Homo sapiens: one gene and its partners. The gene in region 1 interacts genetically with each later gene. Each region holds a gene or a part of one and is shown in the gene's direction. Other genes may lie near its edges.

The links. A genetic interaction does not mean that the proteins touch.
Region 2: changes in HMGA1 (region 1) and CSF3R together harm fitness more than expected from each alone (negative genetic interaction), as found in Homo sapiens cells (one large-scale study listed by BioGRID).
Region 3: changes in HMGA1 (region 1) and CDC25A together harm fitness more than expected from each alone (negative genetic interaction), as found in Homo sapiens cells (one large-scale study listed by BioGRID).
Region 4: changes in HMGA1 (region 1) and CYP11B2 together harm fitness more than expected from each alone (negative genetic interaction), as found in Homo sapiens cells (one large-scale study listed by BioGRID).

Annotation. Positions count from the first base shown.
Region 1 is NC_000006.12:34,239,873-34,243,301, forward strand, and holds part of HMGA1 (high mobility group protein HMG-I/HMG-Y), read left to right. Parts: intron 1-800; exon of another isoform or gene 801-864; 5' UTR 865-908; coding exon 909-1,043; intron 1,044-2,839; coding exon 2,840-2,923; intron 2,924-3,429. UniProt on the Homo sapiens protein: HMG-I/Y bind preferentially to the minor groove of A+T rich regions in double-stranded DNA. It is suggested that these proteins could function in nucleosome phasing and in the 3'-end processing of mRNA transcripts.
Region 2 is NC_000001.11:36,476,149-36,480,904, reverse strand, and holds part of CSF3R (granulocyte colony-stimulating factor receptor isoform a precursor), read left to right. Parts: intron 1-824; exon of another isoform or gene 825-918; intron 919-1,388; 5' UTR 1,389-1,408; coding exon 1,409-1,472; intron 1,473-4,756. UniProt on the Homo sapiens protein: Receptor for granulocyte colony-stimulating factor (CSF3), essential for granulocytic maturation. Plays a crucial role in the proliferation, differentiation and survival of cells along the neutrophilic lineage.
Region 3 is NC_000003.12:48,178,153-48,182,908, reverse strand, and holds part of CDC25A (M-phase inducer phosphatase 1), read left to right. Parts: intron 1-1,112; exon of another isoform or gene 1,113-1,432; intron 1,433-2,068; coding exon 2,069-2,188; intron 2,189-4,756. UniProt on the Homo sapiens protein: Tyrosine protein phosphatase which functions as a dosage-dependent inducer of mitotic progression. Directly dephosphorylates CDK1 and stimulates its kinase activity. Also dephosphorylates CDK2 in complex with cyclin-E, in vitro.
Region 4 is NC_000008.11:142,914,779-142,920,215, reverse strand, and holds the start of CYP11B2 (cytochrome P450 11B2, mitochondrial precursor), read left to right. Parts: upstream 1-2,372; 5' UTR 2,373-2,375; coding exon 2,376-2,614; intron 2,615-3,001; coding exon 3,002-3,157; intron 3,158-4,970; coding exon 4,971-5,170; intron 5,171-5,307; coding exon 5,308-5,437. UniProt on the Homo sapiens protein: A cytochrome P450 monooxygenase that catalyzes the biosynthesis of aldosterone, the main mineralocorticoid in the human body responsible for salt and water homeostasis, thus involved in blood pressure regulation, arterial hypertension, and the development of heart failure.

The DNA of each region.
Region 1 (3,429 bases):
AGGATGAGCCCTAAACCTCATCCTAAAGGATGAGGGCCAGCCAGGGTCTGTTAGGCGGTGCATTTCAGTTGGAGAATTCCCTACCCATCTGACAAAGTCCCATCTGACTCCAGTTGGGCAGAGGAGGGGTAAGGGGAAAGAGGAGGGTGGCCTTTGGCTTTGGGCTCACTTTCCTCCCCCACCTCACCCACTAGCTTCAACCATCTCCTCCCTCCCTCAATTATACCAATCTGAATTCTCCAGGGATTTACCCTGGGTGAGAACAGAGAAGAGAGCTGGTGGTGGGCACCACCCCTGGCTGTGTGATTGGCTCTTTTTGGTCCTGAGTCTTGCACCTTGCCAGATAGGCAATATTGTCAGTGAGGTGGGCAGGGGATCAATGTCCATAGCTGCCAGATCGCAAGGTCTCATTCTTTCCATTTTCCCACTGAACTGCGTAGGCTGGATTTTCTCTTAAAGAGAAAGGGCAGCAGTTGACTACAGAAGGAGGGGATGCTGGCAATACGTCAGATCTCACCTCCCCACACCTTTGTCCCAGGGTGGCCTCACCCATGTAGCTAGGTCTGGGCTGGCTGTACCTCCTGGGACCCCCCCCACCACGCTGCACTGGGGCGGTGTTAAGGCAGGACAACAAAGAGCCCTTCTGAACAGGAGATAGATAAGAAGCTGATTAGGGCCAACGGCCCTTCCCCGCCCTTGGCAGCATCTGGGGGTGGGCAGACCCCTCCATCCTGGGCAGAGTAGGAGGCCTGGGGGCCCATGGGAGCACAGTTTTCTGCAGTGTGCCTTGAAGGTGTGGGTGATGAGGGGGTAGAAAGTGGCTGAAGCGAGATGTTTGTCTAAAAGCACTTTTCTGTCTCCCAGCATCCCAGCCATCACTCTTCCACCTGCTCCTTAGAGAAGGGAAGATGAGTGAGTCGAGCTCGAAGTCCAGCCAGCCCTTGGCCTCCAAGCAGGAAAAGGACGGCACTGAGAAGCGGGGCCGGGGCAGGCCGCGCAAGCAGCCTCCGGTGAGTCCCGGGACAGCGCTGGTAGGGAGTCAGGTGGGTGTCCAAACCTTTGCTTCACTTGGTTTACCCTTTGGGGCTAGGGAGGTGCCTGGAGTTTCATTCAGCAGGCGAGACCATGCATGGAGGGTGCAGAATGATTCTGCGCAGTAAGCGTGTGGGTGTGTCCTCCCACCTGTGTGTACTCCTGCCCCACTTGCAACCCTGGTCAGATCTCTATAGAGACCCCAGGAGAGAACCGGGGGCCGAGGAATTCAAGATAAATTCTGAAGCCAATGGCAAACAGTCCAAACCTAAAGCACCCCAGAGGTCACATGGCCAGTGCTTAAAACACTCGCCTTTTTCTTAATTTCCAATCCACTGTGGACCAGTAATTTTAAAATGCAGTAAAGACGAATGAACAAAAATGAACATAGAAGCCCAGGGTTTTTAATCATTAGATTCAGTGCACGTAAAATGATTTTTGTCAATTTGCTGTAAAGTTGCTGAATACTTATGGTCGATTCTTGTACTTCCTCATCCCAGGTGAGAAACGGGTGCCTGCGTGGGCCAGCACCTGTTTGTGCACAGGCCAGTTATGAGTAGTTCTGGAATGGGCATTGCCCCTGGCTCTTTAGATGGAAATTGAAGCCCAAGAAGTCAAAAATGTTGGGGAGTTGGTGGCAGTGACCCTCAGAACCCTGGTGCTGCTCTCCCCACAAAGTCCTCATAGAAGGATGAGGCTGCCAGCCTGGCGCTGTGGGGCACCCTAGGGAGCATGGCCATTTGGGCATGGGGGGGACCCCATATTGGCCTCTTACAGAGGCAGCTGTCACCCAAGTGAAGGGTGGCTGTTGGTGAAGCCCAGTTACTTCCCTTCCCTGGGAGAGAGGTAAGAGGAGTTGAGTTCGACCTCTGCCCCTTAAACATGATACAGGTTGTTCACCTGCAGGTTTTCCCTGTCCGTACGGTGGAGAGTGGTCTGTGCTGACCTGGGCCCAGGGAGACACGAGCTGTGAGGAGTCTGCTGTGTTGGAATTCAGAGCCTGGGGTGGGGTCATTTGTCCTCTTAGCCTAGCTCCCTCAGCCTCCCCTCCTACCCCACCTGTTAGCCATGGTCAGTGGGAGGTGTCAGGAGGGGTGCAGGGTTACTGGACCCTGGTTATAGACAGACCATGGGCGGCCCCCTAGGAAACAGTAGCTGGCGCGCCTTCACCACACACCTTATATGCATTATGCAGCAGCTTTTTATTCTATCTACGGCTTATTAAAATTTCAGTGGGAATGATGGCAGGGATCTCTGGAGTCCGGCTATAATTCCCCTTCTCTGGGGGCAGCCTGGATGGGCTCCAGGTTTGCAAGTGCAGGCAGGGAGTGTGTGTCCAGCATAGGTCATCTGAGAGGGTGGGCAGTGATCATGGCCCAGTGCTAGATAACCATACATTACCCATTTAATCTCCATGACACCCTGCAAGGGAAGTCTTCACCATTTATAGATGAGGAAACTGAGGCTCCAGCATTAAGTGTCCCACCCAAGATAAGTGTCAGAACTGAGACTTGGGCAGAGCCACCTAACTGTCTTTCTGTCCCCAGAATGCCTTTCCTAGGGGTCTTCTGGGCTCTTGTCATTTTGCATCTTAGAAACCTGCAGGGAAGCAAGGGGAGAGGTGGGAGGCACTTTGCAAAGATGCTCAAACTGGAGCTTTGGATCCTGAAGGGATTCCTAGGTCAGGGATGGTTTGTGGTTCTTGGTTCTTGCTGACTTAACCTTGTTGAGGAGGCAGAGGGCTGTGTCTTCTGAGGGGGTGGAAACAGGTGATGACTGTCCCTGACTACCCCCTCTGTCTTTACAGAAGGAGCCCAGCGAAGTGCCAACACCTAAGAGACCTCGGGGCCGACCAAAGGGAAGCAAAAACAAGGGTGCTGCCAAGACCCGGGTGAGACTTGAGATGGGACTACCCCTGGGTGGATGACTAGCAGAGGATCCTCTTGTTGGCACCATGGCCACGGCTGTGGGGAGGTCTGGGAAGGGGCTCAGTCATCTCAGTTGTGTACCCCCTTCCCTGGTACAGGGATGGCAGTGAGTCTTTGCTAACTGGGGAGAGTGGGGCGATGACTAAGGTCTTACTTCTGGGGGGTTGGTCCTGCCCAGGACACTGCGGAGATCAGGTCAGAAGTCCCACAGCTTTCCTGATCTAGAGAAGGGCAGAGTGGGGAGAATGGAGGGTCCCTGCCAGTCCCTGGGCTGAGAATGTTACCTTCTCTTGGGGTTCCCTGGAGCCTGAAGGGGTGGGGACAGGCAGCAAAGGCCAGATTCACAGTGACATTAGCCTTTCAGAAAAGTTGTTTTGTTTTTTATTTTATTTTTTCTAAGACACGACTCATATCCTCTGAGTCATGGGCGGAGGTGGGAGTAGGGGGCGTGTGTGTATGTCGAGGGGGC
Region 2 (4,756 bases), on another chromosome or scaffold:
CTGCATCCATCCAGAGGAAGGGGTGCTTTCTTTCTGATTTGCACAAAGGAGACTTACGGGCTAGCAGTCACTGGGTATTCCGATACTGCAATATATACATGGATAGACTGGGGGTTTGGGTAAGACCCCTGTGAGCAGTAACAACCTTGGGTATCTGGGCAGTTCTTATCCACACCTCTGTCTGGGAGGAAGAGAAAAGGATTCTCCTACCTTTCTCCCTGCTGAGCACGAGGGATCTGCTGGGACACCACCTGCGTGTATGTGTCCAGATATGTACGTGCAAGCTGACCAGCGATTCCCACTGATCTGCCACCAAGAGCACCAACTCGTGCTGGAGGATCAGGTGTTGGCTCCAAGACCCCAATGGGAGCAGGGTGAAGATGAGGCTGGACACCCACCCAAGTGGTAGAAACCTCTGCATACTTCCTAAGACTGGAGCCAAGGCACCCTCCATCCAGGTGCTATGGCCGTGACCTCATGATGCCTGACCCCAGAAGGCCACCAGAGGTCTGTGCCCAAAATTGGGGGCACACTGGACCCTTCGGGTGCCCCACTTGATATTCTCTCAGCCCACATGGCTGAGGCAGCCAGCTTCCTGCAGGCATAACCTGACAGCCCCTTGCCTCAGCTGCTCCATAGAGTTCTCCCTTTCTTCCAGGGAGTGTCCCTGACAACACTGGCATGGCTTCCCCAGGAGAACCTGCCTAGTACTCATGCATGCCCAACCTGGATGTGCCAGGGAATGAACACCCCAAGAGGCATCCCTTGACCAATGGGGGGCAGGAGTCAGTGGGTAAATCTTTCCATCTTCCCTCCCATCCAAGGGATAAATTGACCCTCCAGTGGACAGCTCTGAGAAGTGTTCTACATGGCTCTTTGGAAGGTTCCAGCAGGATAGAGCCCCAGTTGTCCATAGAGGTGACCAACATGATGATGTAACTTTGTGCTGGCTTTCTCTCCTTCCCTGTTTCATTCTCCCCAGTCCCTTATCTGCTGCTAGGATCTTCTCAAAATAAACTACCAGCATGCAATTCCTCATCTCAGGTTCTGCTCTCTAGGGGTAGCCTAGCTTAGATAGCTGGGAAGGCGGAAGAATGCTCTTCCTCACTGCTCCTTTCCCTGCTCTTTCCTGGAAGGCAAGTATAATAACTGTGGCTGTCACTGTCATTTCCTATGTTCCAGGCACTGTGAAAAGCCCTTGACTTGCATCATTTTGTGTCTTCCTCTCAAAGTCCCATGCAGTATAGGCTGCTGTTACTTCCATTTTGCAAAGAAACGAAGGCTCAGAGAAGTCAAGCAACCTAGTCAAAGCTGCACAGTGACAGACAAGGATTAAGATCAGCTCTGACTCCAAAGCCCATGGTCTTAAACAACCCTTCTGCCTACAGGTGAACATCAAGTTGGTGCTATGGCAAGGCTGGGAAACTGCAGCCTGACTTGGGCTGCCCTGATCATCCTGCTGCTCCCCGGAAGTGAGTATGGCCAAGGATGAGGGTGCAGTGGGGAGGGGAAGCTACAAGGAGAGATATTGGGAATTTCCTTGCACTGCCACATGGCTCCTGGGATTCCCAGAGAATCCCACAAGATTCAAGTCTGAGCCACAGATGTGGGGTAGCTGGTCTCCCACCCACAGACTTCCACAGGCAAACCACCACCCAAGAGGAATGGTGAGACGACCCGGGCTGGTCATCCTGGAAAAGGCCAGTGAGGCGCAGATCTTGTCCGCAAATCTCTACCAAGCTGTCAGAAGCAACCCATGGGTCCTATGCAGCCTTGGTGGGCAGCAAAGGGATCAGGATGGAAGCTACAAGGGGACAGGTTTCATCCTGAAATAAAGAAGCCCAGGCAGAGCTTGGTTTCCAACCATGGAAACTCTGTCTTGAGAGGTAGAGAACTTCCCATCCCCAGGGGTATGCAAGCTAAAGCCAGGATTGATAAAGATGCTGTGCAGCAGGGGTTGGCAAACTTTTTCTGACAGTAATGTTTAGGCTTTGCAGGCCACATACTGTCTCTGTTCCTTGTTTGTTTGTTTGTTTGTTTGTTTGTTCGTTTGTGAGACAGGGTCTCCCTCTGTTGCCCAGGCTGGAGTGCAGTGGCACAATCGCAGCTCACTGCAGCCTCAACCTCCTGGGCTCAAGTGATCCTCCCGCCTCAGCCTCCAAGGTAGTGCAGGGCATGCCACCACACCCAGCTAATTTTTTTTTGTTGTTGTATTTTTTTGTAGAGATGTAGTTTTGCCATGTTGCCCAGGCTGGTCTCAAACTCCTGGGTTCCAGCAATCCACCTGCCCTGACCTCCCAAAGTATGGGGATTACAAGCATGACCCGCCACGCCCTGCCTATTGCATGTTTTTTGGTTTTTGTTTTTTTGTTTTTTGAGATGGAGTCTCACTCTCTTGCCCAGGCTGAAGTACAGTAGCGGGATCTCAGCTCACTGCAACCTCCGCCTGCCGGGTTCAAGCGATTCTCCTGCCTCAGCCTCCCGAATAGCTGGGATTACAGGCACCTGCCACCAGGCCCTGCAAATTTTTGTATTTTTACTAGAGATGGGGTTTCACCATGTTGGCCAGGCTGGTCTCAAACTCCTGACGTCAGGTGATCCACTCACCTCGGCCTCCCAAAGTGCTGGGATTACAGGCATGAACCACCGCGCCCAGCCCTGTGGCATGTTTTTATTTGGTTTTTGCTTTGCTTGTTTTTAACTCTTTTAAAATGTAAGAAACATCTTTAGTTGTTAGGCTATACAAAAATAGGCCACTCAAGCCCTGCTGTAGAGGGCAGAGCATCAGGTAGAGTTTTGAAGCAAACAACCTTGTAAAGTTTCTTCCAGCCTGAAATCCTGAGTCTGGGCCGGGCGCGGTGGCTCACGCCTGTAATCCCAGCACTTTGGGAGGCCTAGGCGGGTGGATCACAAGGTCAGGAGATCGAGACCATCCTGGTGAACACAGTGAAACCCTGTATCTACTAAAAATACAAAAAATTAGCCGGGCATGGTGCCGGGTGCCTGTAGTCCTAGCTACTCGGGAGGCTGAGGCAGGACAATGGCGTGAGCCCAGCAGGCGGCGCTTGCAGTAAGCCGAGATCACGCCACTGCACTCCAGCCTGGGCAGCAGAGTGACTCCGTCTCAAAAAAAAAAAAGAAATCCTGAGCCTGTGAAGCAGTAGAAGCCCTTTGTTGAGAATCATGAACTTGCTCTGTGACCCTGGGCAAACTGCTTCTCCTCTTAGGGCCTTCGCATCCCCATCAGTAAAACGGGCCTAAGAACACCTGAGAGAGGACAGAAAGCATTGCGGGCAAAGTGTATGTTGATTTGTTTGTTTATTTATTTATCAAAAAAAATTCATCGGCCGGGCGCAGTGGCTCATGCCTGTCATCCTAGCACTTTGGGAGGCTGAGGCGGGTGGATCACGAGGTCAGGAGATCGAGACCAGCCTGCCAGCATGGTGAAAACCCATCTCTACTAAAAATACAAAAAAAAATTAGCCGGGCATGGTGGTGCGTGCCTGTAGCCCCAGCTTTTCGGGAGGCTGAGGCAGGAGAATCGCTTGAACCTGGGAGGCGGAGGTTGCAGTGAGCCGAGATTGTGCCACAGCACTCCAGCCTGGGTGACAGAGCGAAACTCCTTCTCAAAATAATAATAATAATAAATATTCACCAAGGTCCTACTCTGTACTAGGCACTGGGAATACAGTAATAAGCAAACAGCCAAGGTCTGCTGGCCTCACAGAATTTATAGTCTAGCTGGAGTGATAGATAAGTAAATAATCATAAGACTCTATAATTATGAAGGATAATAAGAGCTTTGAGGAAGTACAGGGACCTTGGCCTCCTCCAGTTCGTTAGTGCCTGGTCTGGTTTCTTCAAGATGCCTAAGCGTTAACCAGGTGAAACAGGGGTGGGAGAGAGAAAGAAGAGTCCCTCCAAAAAGAACAGCATGCCGGGCACAGTGGTTCACATCTGTAGTCCCAGCACTTTGGGAGGCTGAAGCAGGAGGATTGCTTGAGCCCAGGAGCTCAAGATTAGCCTAGGCAACATAGTGAAACCCCATCTCTACCAAAAAAAAAAAAAATCAAAAAATTAGCAAGGTGTGCTGGCATGAACCTGTAGTCCCAGCTACTCAGGAGGCTGAGGTGGGAAGATCACTTGAGCCTAGGAGGTCAAGGGTGCACTGAGCCGTGATCGTGCCACTGCACTCCAGCCTGAGTGACAGAGCAAGAACTTGAAGAAAAAAAAGAAAAGAAAAAGAAAACCAAAACAAAACAACAACAACAAAAAAAAAAAAACAGCAGGGACAAAGATCCAGAGATTAGAAAGATTTTGGAGTTTTCAAAGAATAGCAAGAATGAGCCAGAATAGCTGGAGCTGAGAGACCGGTATAAGCTGGAACTGAGAGGGTCAGGCAGGGGCCAGGCCACAGGAGCTATTGAAGGATTTGAGTGTTTATCCTAATGATGGCAGCAAATACTCACATGCCAGACACTGCTCTAAATGCCTTCCATATGTTATCGCATGTAATCCTTCCAGCAACACTAAGGTAGGGACGATTTTTATCCCCATTTTACAGATGAGAAAACTGAGGCACAGGAAGTCTTAGAAATATACCAGGATCATGTAATTAATAAGCAATAGAACCAGAATTTAAACCTAGGCAGTCTAGTTCCAACATCCACACTCATCCATCACACCACACTGCCTTTCAGAGCAATAATGTGCCATTGAAGTGCTGCGATGGAGATGGGGTAGCAGAATCAGATTT
Region 3 (4,756 bases), on another chromosome or scaffold:
CTAACCTGAGGCAGAGGTGAAACCCACAGGCTGTCAGTGGCTTAGAAGTGGCTGGGCTGCTTTCTGGGAGACTAAACTTGGCCATTATGTGCGGTCTTTGGAGTCAGAGAATTCTGGGTTTGGATCCTGCTTACTAGCTGTGTGATGTTGGCAAATTCTTCTCTTTTTAATCTTTGCTCTTTTGTAAAATAGGAGTAGTAATACCTTTTAGGGATGTTGTGGCAATAAGTAAGATTATGTATGAAGTATTGAAAATGGTGCCTGACAGGCGGGAGTTGCTCAGATTGTAGCTCACAGGAGTAATTACATGTACAAATAGTGTTTGTCTGGAAGGCTCTGCCCAGGCTGTCCTTGCCTCTTTGCTCTGACCCTGAAATGAATTGTAAGCTTAGGAAAAGGCTCTTTGGCAGTATTTGTAAGAACGGGGTCAACAAGTTCTAGGGAATCTCAGAGTAACTGAAATGGTGGCTTGGAAGGTGAATTTCTGGTTATCTACCCTGAATGAGCCTGGCTTTTTTGTTCTTTTAGACATTGCACAGAGTAGGCATCCAAAACAGTTGTAATTTTTTCAGCCTTCTCTCTACTGTATTTCTATATATTTACTTTCTCCCCTTTTCCATTCCTGCTGAAATGCCACAGTTCATAATCCTTGTCCTTACAATCTTCAGGTTTAGTGTGAAACCCACTGCCTCCATGAACTCTCCTGATGATTTCTTTATCAACCTGGGAAGTGTCATGAGAAAGAATATGGAAATGAGTTCCAGCCTTGAGTGCTTGGAACAGTGTATCAGCCTCTAGTGCTTTTTACCAGGGCAAAGCTGTACTGATGCCTGGTTTTCCCCCGAAATAGCTTCTCAGGGTTGCTTGCCTGGAGCTTTGTTTTAAAGGGAAAACAGCATAGATGGTGGTTAAAGAGCTCTCACTCTGGAGTTGTCCTGTTTTACTTCAATATTTTGGGCACATTCCTTAACCTGCAAGGTCTAGTTTTCTCACCTGTAAAATCGGGACAATCAGGTTGTATTTGATGGTTAAAAAGTTAATGCACAGAAAGTACTTAGTACTGTGTTGGCATAGAAATCACTGTAATATTAGCCATTACTGCTTTTTTTTTTTTTTTGATTCTTCATGGTTTTATTTCTCTCAGAACTTTAAAATGTGAACATTCTATAATTCAGCCAGTCTTTACTTCCAGGTAACTTCTTTATTGGGTCGCAATACCCTTTTAAATAACATGCTCTTGTTCCGGAAGGTAGTTAGCCGTTCATCACTCTTTCTGTCTAAATAACATCCAGTGACAAATCCCATAGGGACAAGAACATGAACCCAGTGGTCCCGCACAATCTGAAGTAAGTTCACCATGATAGCTGCAGCCTCAGTGCCGACCGCGACCCCGAGACCAAGGGCAACGGGGAACTCAGCCACCCACGCCAGTGCTAGCCATTACTGCTTTTAATACTTAATTATGAGTTCTTAAGTGAATATTTTAGGGCAAGGGACCTGTGAGTGTTTTCATTCCATAAAGTGGAATCATACGATATGTATTCTATCATATCTGGCTTTAAAAAACATTATGCTTGTAAGAATCGTCCACGTTGAGTAAACCAGTAGGGCTTTTTTTTTTTTCATTGCTTTTAGTATAGAATAGAATAATTATAAGTAGAAAAAATTATCTCCAGTTGGTAGGAAGAGGTGGAAAATATGAAGCCCTGAAACAGATGGACCTAGATGGAAAATTTTGACAACTATTCACAGGCAATTATATTAGATTTTATTTATTTTTGCTTTAGATTTCAGAAAGTTTGTGATTTAGCTTATTCATCGTGTTTTGTATATTTGGCAGATACTTGTGTTAGGAAATACAGTATGACAAGAAAAAGATGTTACTTTAGAAGTTAGCTGTTGACAGAGCCTTGGAAATTCTTAGTTACGCAGATCTATTGTTGGAATTAGGTGAAACTTTAATTTGGAGGCAGAAAGGTGATCAGTGCCCACTTTCTTGCCTCTTTCACCCAAGCTGAGGCCTGAGTTGGTTTTCATGGACAGTAGATGTCTCAACTATGTCTTGCAGGAAGCCTTTGAGTTTAAGAAGCCAGTAAGACCTGTATCTCGTGGCTGCCTGCACTCTCATGGACTCCAGGAGGGTAAAGATCTCTTCACACAGAGGCAGAACTCTGCCCCAGCTCGGATGGTATGTGCTCTGGCTTTCATAGGGGAATTCCTGACAGGAAGAAAGGATTAAAACACCTTCTTTCATCCAGAATTGAAGGCACTACAGTAGCACTAGCTGTTTTTACCTTGACTTTGTCTTTTGAAATTAGACTGTCAAGCATTCTTGGTGGTTTTGCTGTGTCTGGAGAACAGACAGGCGGTAGTAAGAGTGGGAGATGGTGTTTGAAATATTGGAGTTGTGCAAGGAATAATCGACCTTGTTAATCTGGGAAATCCTGGGTCATCCTAAATGTATGTATGGTGGGATTATATCTCTTCCTATTTTTTTCTTTTTTTCTTTTTTTTTTTTTAAGGGCTTTCTGGCAAAAACCGGAAAGCCTGCGAGACAAATTTTAAAAGAGCCGTAACACTAGATCTCTTACTTAAAACTTGGTCTTTACTATGCATTCTAAGTGCTTCTCAAGGAACTGGAGAGAGAGCACTTGACTTCTTCCAAAGGTGGTTTGTTAAGAACAGTTATGGGCCAGGTGCCATGGCTCATGCCTATAATCTCAGCACTTTGGAAAACTGAGACAGGAGGATCGCTTGAGTCCTGGGCAGCATAGTGAGACCACATCTCTATTTTTTTTATTTTTAATTTTTTTAAAGAACTATTATGGATTACAGTGAATGCTCAGGCTGCTGGGCAGTTTTGGGGTCACTCGTTTCAGGGCTATGTATTTGCCAGACAGGGACTGTCATTACTTCCAAAGTTTCCTGCTGTTGGTCTGAATTGGATTAACTGATAGCATCTATAGATTGGAGAGGCCCAACTTGAGCAAGATGACCACATTTGGCTTCCAGGTTTACCTAGGATCTTAAATCTGAAAATATACCTTTCCAATCTGCTTTGTGTTCTGAGGTTCAGCCAGTATTGTTACTCTGTCTATCATTTGCACAAAGCACTTTTATATGTTCTTGTCTTGTGAAGTGGAGTTAATCCACTTGAACAGATTAGGAAAGTACCACTAGAGAGGTTTGGATGATTTACCAAAGGATATACATAAGTAGGAAACCAGGATTTAATGATCTCTGGCTGGGTGTGGTGGCTCATGGCTGTAATCCCAGCACTTTGGGAGGCCGAGGTGGGAGGATCACATGAGGTCAGGAGTTCAAGACAGCCTGGGTAACATAGTGAGACCCTATCTGTACAAAGTTAAAAAATAAGCTGAGTGTGGTGGCTTGTTCCTATAGTCCCAATTAGTCGGGAGGCTGAAGTGGGAGGATTGCTTGAGCCCAAGAATTCGAGGCTGCAGTGAGCTATGATCAGACCACTGTACTCCAGCCTGGACAATGAATCCCTGTCTCAATAAACAATCTCTAAATTCCCAAGTACACAGTAATGCTTTAAGAGTTGGGTATCAGAAACAATATATTTGGTGTGTGCTTAGCGACTAGAGCCTGTATCACATCTGCACCTAGGAATCCCAGAACATACCTCACAAATGTTGGTGTGATATAGTGTGAGCTTTCGTGATAAAGGTACTGCCCCATAATAAAGTTATCTACCCCTAGGCTAAAAAAATTTGCCATTTCCCAGAGTGTGCACTTGGGGAGGACTAGAGACTGCTCAGAACTTGTTTTATATTGTGAAGCAAAGCTAATGCCAGAACCAGAATAGGCCAGCTGCAGAGAGGATTCCTTGGTGCATGATCCACTCAGAAAATCAGAGGGCCACTTAACTAACAACAGATTCATACCCCAAAGAGATTTGGATTTTAAGGATTACTTGTAGGTCATAACATTGGGACTACCCTGCTACTGTGAAAAAAATAACTCTAAACTTTTTTTTCTGGATTTGAAAGTGCCTAGAAAATAAATAATTCAGTATTAGCAGTGTTTGTATTGGTAGGATTTATCTTCAGGTGTGGATTTATGAGCAGTTTTTCTAAATTTTCTATATTCCATGTTTAGAGGTTTCCCAAAAAAAGTATGACTATAGGTTGGCTAATGAGGTACCGCCATTTTAATTCCAGGAATGGTTTTCTCCTAGGGAGATAGTGTGGTGAGAAGAGTTTGGATTTTGGAGTCAAACAGATGAGGTGTATAATCTTGGTAACCTCTTAAGCACCAGTTTCCTGATTTGCTAAAGAAAAAGGAAAGGATTAGCTACCTTTAGTGTATTGTGAGGCTTCTATTGGATTATATGTATAAAGATTATATCGTAGTATCTGGCACACAGTAATTCCTCGTTTAAAAACTGAGCATTTAAATCCCAAGTCTAAAGAACGAGGATAGATTTTATAGAAGGAAGTTACCCTTTATTCCCCCCTGTCAGAACTGGAGTTATATATAAGTGCATTCTCTAGGCCATTTTATGGTCTTTATAGAGATTTGCATCTGCTTGCCCTAACTCATTTCAGCAGATTCTCATACTGTCACAGTCCTCAATGCTGATCGGTGTTCACTGATGCAACCTTCTAATAAAAGAAACCTTGTTCTTCACAAGAGGCTATCTCTAGTACCCATTATAAGGTGAATTGCTTCTGGCAAGAGTTCTCTGTAAAGGCTACTGACTACTCAGGGCTGTGTGTGGTCATCAAATCAT
Region 4 (5,437 bases), on another chromosome or scaffold:
TGGTGTAACATACACATAACGGGGACATTGGAAGGAGGAAAAAAGAAAGGAACAGAAGAAACATTTGAATCAATAATGATTAATGTCAGACACCAAACCACAGATTCAAGCAGCTCAGAGAACACCAAGCAGAAAACAAAACAAAACAAACGTCTCCACCTAAGCATATCATACTCAAACTTTGGAAAAATCAAAGATGAAAAAGAAACCAGGGGTTGGGTGGGGGACACCTTATCTATATAGGAGTAAAGCTAAGAATTACATGTGACTTACCCTCAGAAACCATGCAAGCAAGAAGACAGTGGAGGGAAACATTTCAAGTGTTAGAAGAAAAAAGAAAATACATCAACCTAGAATTCTGCATCCTGTGAAATTATCCTTCAAAAGTGAACATAAATATTTTCTCAGGTAAATAAAAATTGAGGGGATTCGCTGCCAATAGAACTGACTTGCCAGAAATGTTTTTTAAAAGTTCTGCAGAGAGAAAGAAAATGATACAGGTCAGCAACCCTGAGCTACATAAAGAAAGGAAGAGCATTTCAGAAGGAATCAGTAAAGAGAAAATGAAGTCTTTTATTTTTTCTTAATCTTAATTGATCTAAGAGTTTGCTAAAACAAAACAACAACAATAAAAATAGGCCGGGCGCGGTGACTCACCACACCTGTAATCCCAGCACTTTGGGAGGCCGAGGTGGGCAGATCACCTGAGGTCAGGAGTTCGAGACTAGCCTGGCCAACACGGTGAAACCCCGTCTCTACTAAAAATACAAAAATTAGCTGGGCGTGGTGGTGGCACATGCCTGTAATCCCAGCTACTTGGGAGGCTGAGGCGGGAGAATTGCTTGAACCCGGGAGACAGAGGTCGCAGTGAGCCGAGATCACACCATTGCACTCTAGCCTGGGCGACAGAGTGAGACTCTGTCTCAAAAATAAATAAATAAATAAATAAATAAATAATAAAAATAAATAAATAAAAGCCAGAAAGTGTATTTGATGATCATAGTTATGTATATGTGAAATGAAGGACAGCAATGATGCAAGGGATGGGTGAGTGGAATTAAAAATATCTTATTATTTATTTATTTTGAGATGGAGTCTTGCTTTGCTGCCCAGGTTGGAGTGCAGTGGGATGATCTCAACTCACTGCAACCTCCGCCTCCTTGATTCAAGCATTCATCTTGACTCAGCCTGCTGAGAAGCCGAGATTACAGGCATGCGCCACCACACCTGGCTAATTTTGTATTTTTAGTAGAGACAGGGTTTTGCCATGTTGGCCAGGCTGGTCTCGAACTCCTGACCTCAGGTGATCCACCTGCATCAGCCTCCCAAAGTGCTGGGATGACAGACATGAGCCACTATGCCCAGCCTAAGAATATCTGATGATTATAAAGTGCTTGCATTACCTCTGAAGCTGTATAGTGTTATATGAAGGTGGAGTTGGAGAGATGAGTTTTAAGCGTATATTGCAAACTCTAGGGCAACCACTAAAGAAGTGAGACCCAGCCTCTAGAAAAAAAAAAAAAAAAGGAAATTAGCTATCAAGCCACGAAAAGAAATGGAGGAACCTTAAACGCATATTACTAACTGAGATACGTCACTTTGAAAAGGCTACAAACGGTGTCATTCCAACTATACAACATTTTGGAAAAGGCCAAAGCATGGTGATGATAAAAAGATCGGAGATGTCAGGGACTGGGGCAGGAGGGATGAGCAGGCAGAGCACAGGTTTTCTTTTCCTCTTTTTAAGACAGTGAAAATACTCCTAGGATCCTGCAAGGAGGGATACAAATTACATACATTTGTCAAAACCCACAGCATGTTGACCACCAGGAGGAGACCCCATGTGACTCCAGGACCCTGGTTGATAACAACGTATCGAGATTCCTCACATGGAACCAGTGCGCTCCTGTGGTGGAGGGTGTACCTGTGTCAGGGCAGGGGGTACGTGGACATTTTCTGCAGTTTTTGATCAATTTTGCAATGAACTAAATCTGTGGTATAAAAATAAAGTCTATTAAAAGAATCCAAGGCTCCCTCTCATCTCACGATAAGATAAAGTCCCCATCCATTTTACTCCTCTCAGCCCTGGAGAAAGGAGAGGCCAGGTCCCACCACCTTCCACCAGCATGGACCCCCAGTCCAGACCCCACGCCTTTTCTCAGCATCCTCAGACCAGCAGGACTTGCAGCAATGGGGAATTAGGCACCTGACTTCTCCTTCATCTACCTTTGGCTGGGGGCCTCCAGCCTTGACCTTCGCTCTGAGAGTCTCAGGCAGGTCCAGAGCCAGTTCTCCCATGACGTGATATGTTTCCAGAGCAGGTTCCTGGGTGAGATAAAAGGATTTGGGCTGAACAGGGTGGAGGGAGCATTGGAATGGCACTCAGGGCAAAGGCAGAGGTGTGCGTGGCAGCGCCCTGGCTGTCCCTGCAAAGGGCACGGGCACTGGGCACTAGAGCCGCTCGGGCCCCTAGGACGGTGCTGCCGTTTGAAGCCATGCCCCAGCATCCAGGCAACAGGTGGCTGAGGCTGCTGCAGATCTGGAGGGAGCAGGGTTATGAGCACCTGCACCTGGAGATGCACCAGACCTTCCAGGAGCTGGGGCCCATTTTCAGGTAAAGCCCTCCCTGGCCCTCGCTGGGAACACCCAGATCCCTGCCCCTGCTGCCCAGGACCCTGCCAGGCACTCAGCACTGCCATTCCCAGCAGGTCCCGGCACTCTGCATCCTTTGGAGGATGGGGAAGGAGTGCAGCACATGCTGGTCTGTGGTGCTGCCAGGGCAGGGGATAGTGCAGAGAAAACCCCAGCTCACTGCAGAGAGGGCAGGACTCAGAAGCACTAAAGTTGAAAGGTTCCAGGGAGCCAGCAGGAGGGCTTTAGCTGTGAAGCCGCTAATCCAGGAGCAGGGAGGGTGGACAGGAGACACTTTGGATTGGGACTGCAGGGTGGGGCCACGAGGGACATGACCCCGTCCAGCAGGGCCTCCTGCTTGGCCCCACAGGTACAACTTGGGAGGACCACGCATGGTGTGTGTGATGCTGCCGGAGGATGTGGAGAAGCTGCAACAGGTGGACAGCCTGCATCCCTGCAGGATGATCCTGGAGCCCTGGGTGGCCTACAGACAACATCGTGGGCACAAATGTGGCGTGTTCTTGTTGTAAGCGGCGAGTTGGGAGCTGAGAGCTGGGAGCAGGGTGGGCAGCCTGGGTGTAGGGGGGAGGCGAGAGAGGTAGGACCCAAAAGCACATCTGCCCTGGGCCCCTGTGGTGGGCAGTGAGGGTGAGCACCCGGCCCAGAGGACGGCCATCCTGTGGGGTCGCGTCTGCACTGTGGGTTGGGGAAGCAGGGCGGTGGTGGAGAAATGGGCACGGGCACCTCTGCAGAGAAGACGCAGAGCAATGAGCCCTTCTGTGTAGTGAGAACCCGCTCTGCACCAACCTCGGCGGCTGCTTTCTCTTGCGGTCTGGGGACTGTCCTTCCCATAGGTCAGAAAACTGAGGCCCTGAGAAGGGGACTTCCACTGGCCCAGGTCACAGGCTGAGTGCTGAGCCTGGTGTTCGCCGGGGCCACAGCCTCCCTCAGGGCGCTCAGGGTCCCTGCAGTCCTGGCAAACCTTCCTGATGGGGACAGTCCGGGGCAGGAGGCAGGTGGGGACGCAGGTGGCTGGTGGTTCCGTTGTTCTCAGAAGCAAGGCACAAGGTGGGGCGGTTGATGGCACTGGGGAGGATGTTTCCTGGCCCGTGGAGAGGGTGGCGCCTGGTCAGGTGGGCAGGGAGAGGCTGATGCTTGGAGTCGGTCACCTGCAGGGATGTTGTCATTAGGACGGGGGAAGGACTGGATGAGGATGTCACAGTGGTGACAGCCCCCACTCCATGGTAGGAAGGGAACGCTATTGGGAATAGTGGGGTTTAGGTAAAAGGGCACCCGTGGGTCGGGGCCTTCACTGAGGCTGGCCTATAGATGACATCTGGGAGAGAGTCAGGACCCAGGAAGGCAGGTCCAGGAGGCTGGGTGCGCATAATGGAAGGAAGGGGAGCGCTCCTGTATGTGTGTGTGTCTTGCATCTGTGCACATGCTGTGTGTTTCTCTGTACCTGCATTTGCACATGTGTAGTGTGTGCACGTGTCTGTGTGTGAATGTATGTGTGGTGTGTGTGCACAAGTGTCTGTGTGTGTGCATGTGCAGGTGCCGGCATGGGTGTAGTGTTTGTGCACACATGCACATGCGTCTCTTCACACATGGTGTTGAGGTCTTGCATGGGCGCACGTGTGCATGTGCATCTTCTGCCTGTCATCACTGTCAACAGCTCACAGCAGCCAGCTGGACATAAATAAAGGAGTTTTGCAGGAATGTGGCTGACAGGGGAAATTCCTCCCCACCATTCCCTGGGGGCATCCATGGAGCCCCCACGCACTCTGGCTGTGGGTGAGGATGGCATGAAGCACAAAGCTTGGTTTCTGTCCTGCAGAAGATATAGATGCTTCACAGAGACAGGCAGAGGCTGCTGCCCCAGAGGCACTGTGCCCAGGGCGGGGAAGGGTGGGGAGGAGAGGGCAGCCAGGGGCTCTCCCCTCAGGACACTGTGTGGGTGAGGTGGGCAAAGCTTGACAACAGGGGTCACCTCCTTTCTTGGAGAAAAGCCCTACCCTGTTACTACAGGGAGGGCCCGCATGGGTGAGGTGGTGCCAGACTTGGGTCGCCAGGTCCCGGGAATGACCTCAGTTACCCTGTCAGCACCTGTGGGCAGAAGCTACCATCTCATCCCTGCTTAGACCTGAGTGGCCTTTGCCCAGCACCTGGAGGCCGCTCTGAGAAAAGGCTGCAGCTCGAACACAAACAGGCAGCTTCTACCAGGGCCCCCAGTCAGCTCCCTGCAGGCCGATTCCCCTTGGGGACAAGGAGGATGGGATACGGGTCAGGGCCTGTGTCTTGCTGGGGCGGCCTCACAAGCTCTGCCCTGGCCTCTGTAGGAATGGGCCTGAATGGCGCTTCAACCGATTGCGGCTGAACCCAGATGTGCTGTCGCCCAAGGCCGTGCAGAGGTTCCTCCCGATGGTGGATGCAGTGGCCAGGGACTTCTCCCAGGCCCTGAAGAAGAAGGTGCTGCAGAACGCCCGGGGGAGCCTGACCCTGGACGTCCAGCCCAGCATCTTCCACTACACCATAGAAGGTGTGGGCCATGCGGGAAGGTCCAGCCCCAGAGACCCTGGAGTGGCCAGGGATGGGGATGGAGGACTGAAGGGAGTGTGGGGAGGCAGCCAGGAGGCCTGGGGCTGCCTTGTGCTCAGCAGTGCATCCTCCCCGCAGCCAGCAACTTAGCTCTTTTTGGAGAGCGGCTGGGCCTGGTTGGCCACAGCCCCAGTTCTGCCAGCCTGAACTTCCTCCATGCCCTGGAGGTCATGTTCAAATCCACCGTCCAGCTCATGTTCATGCCCAG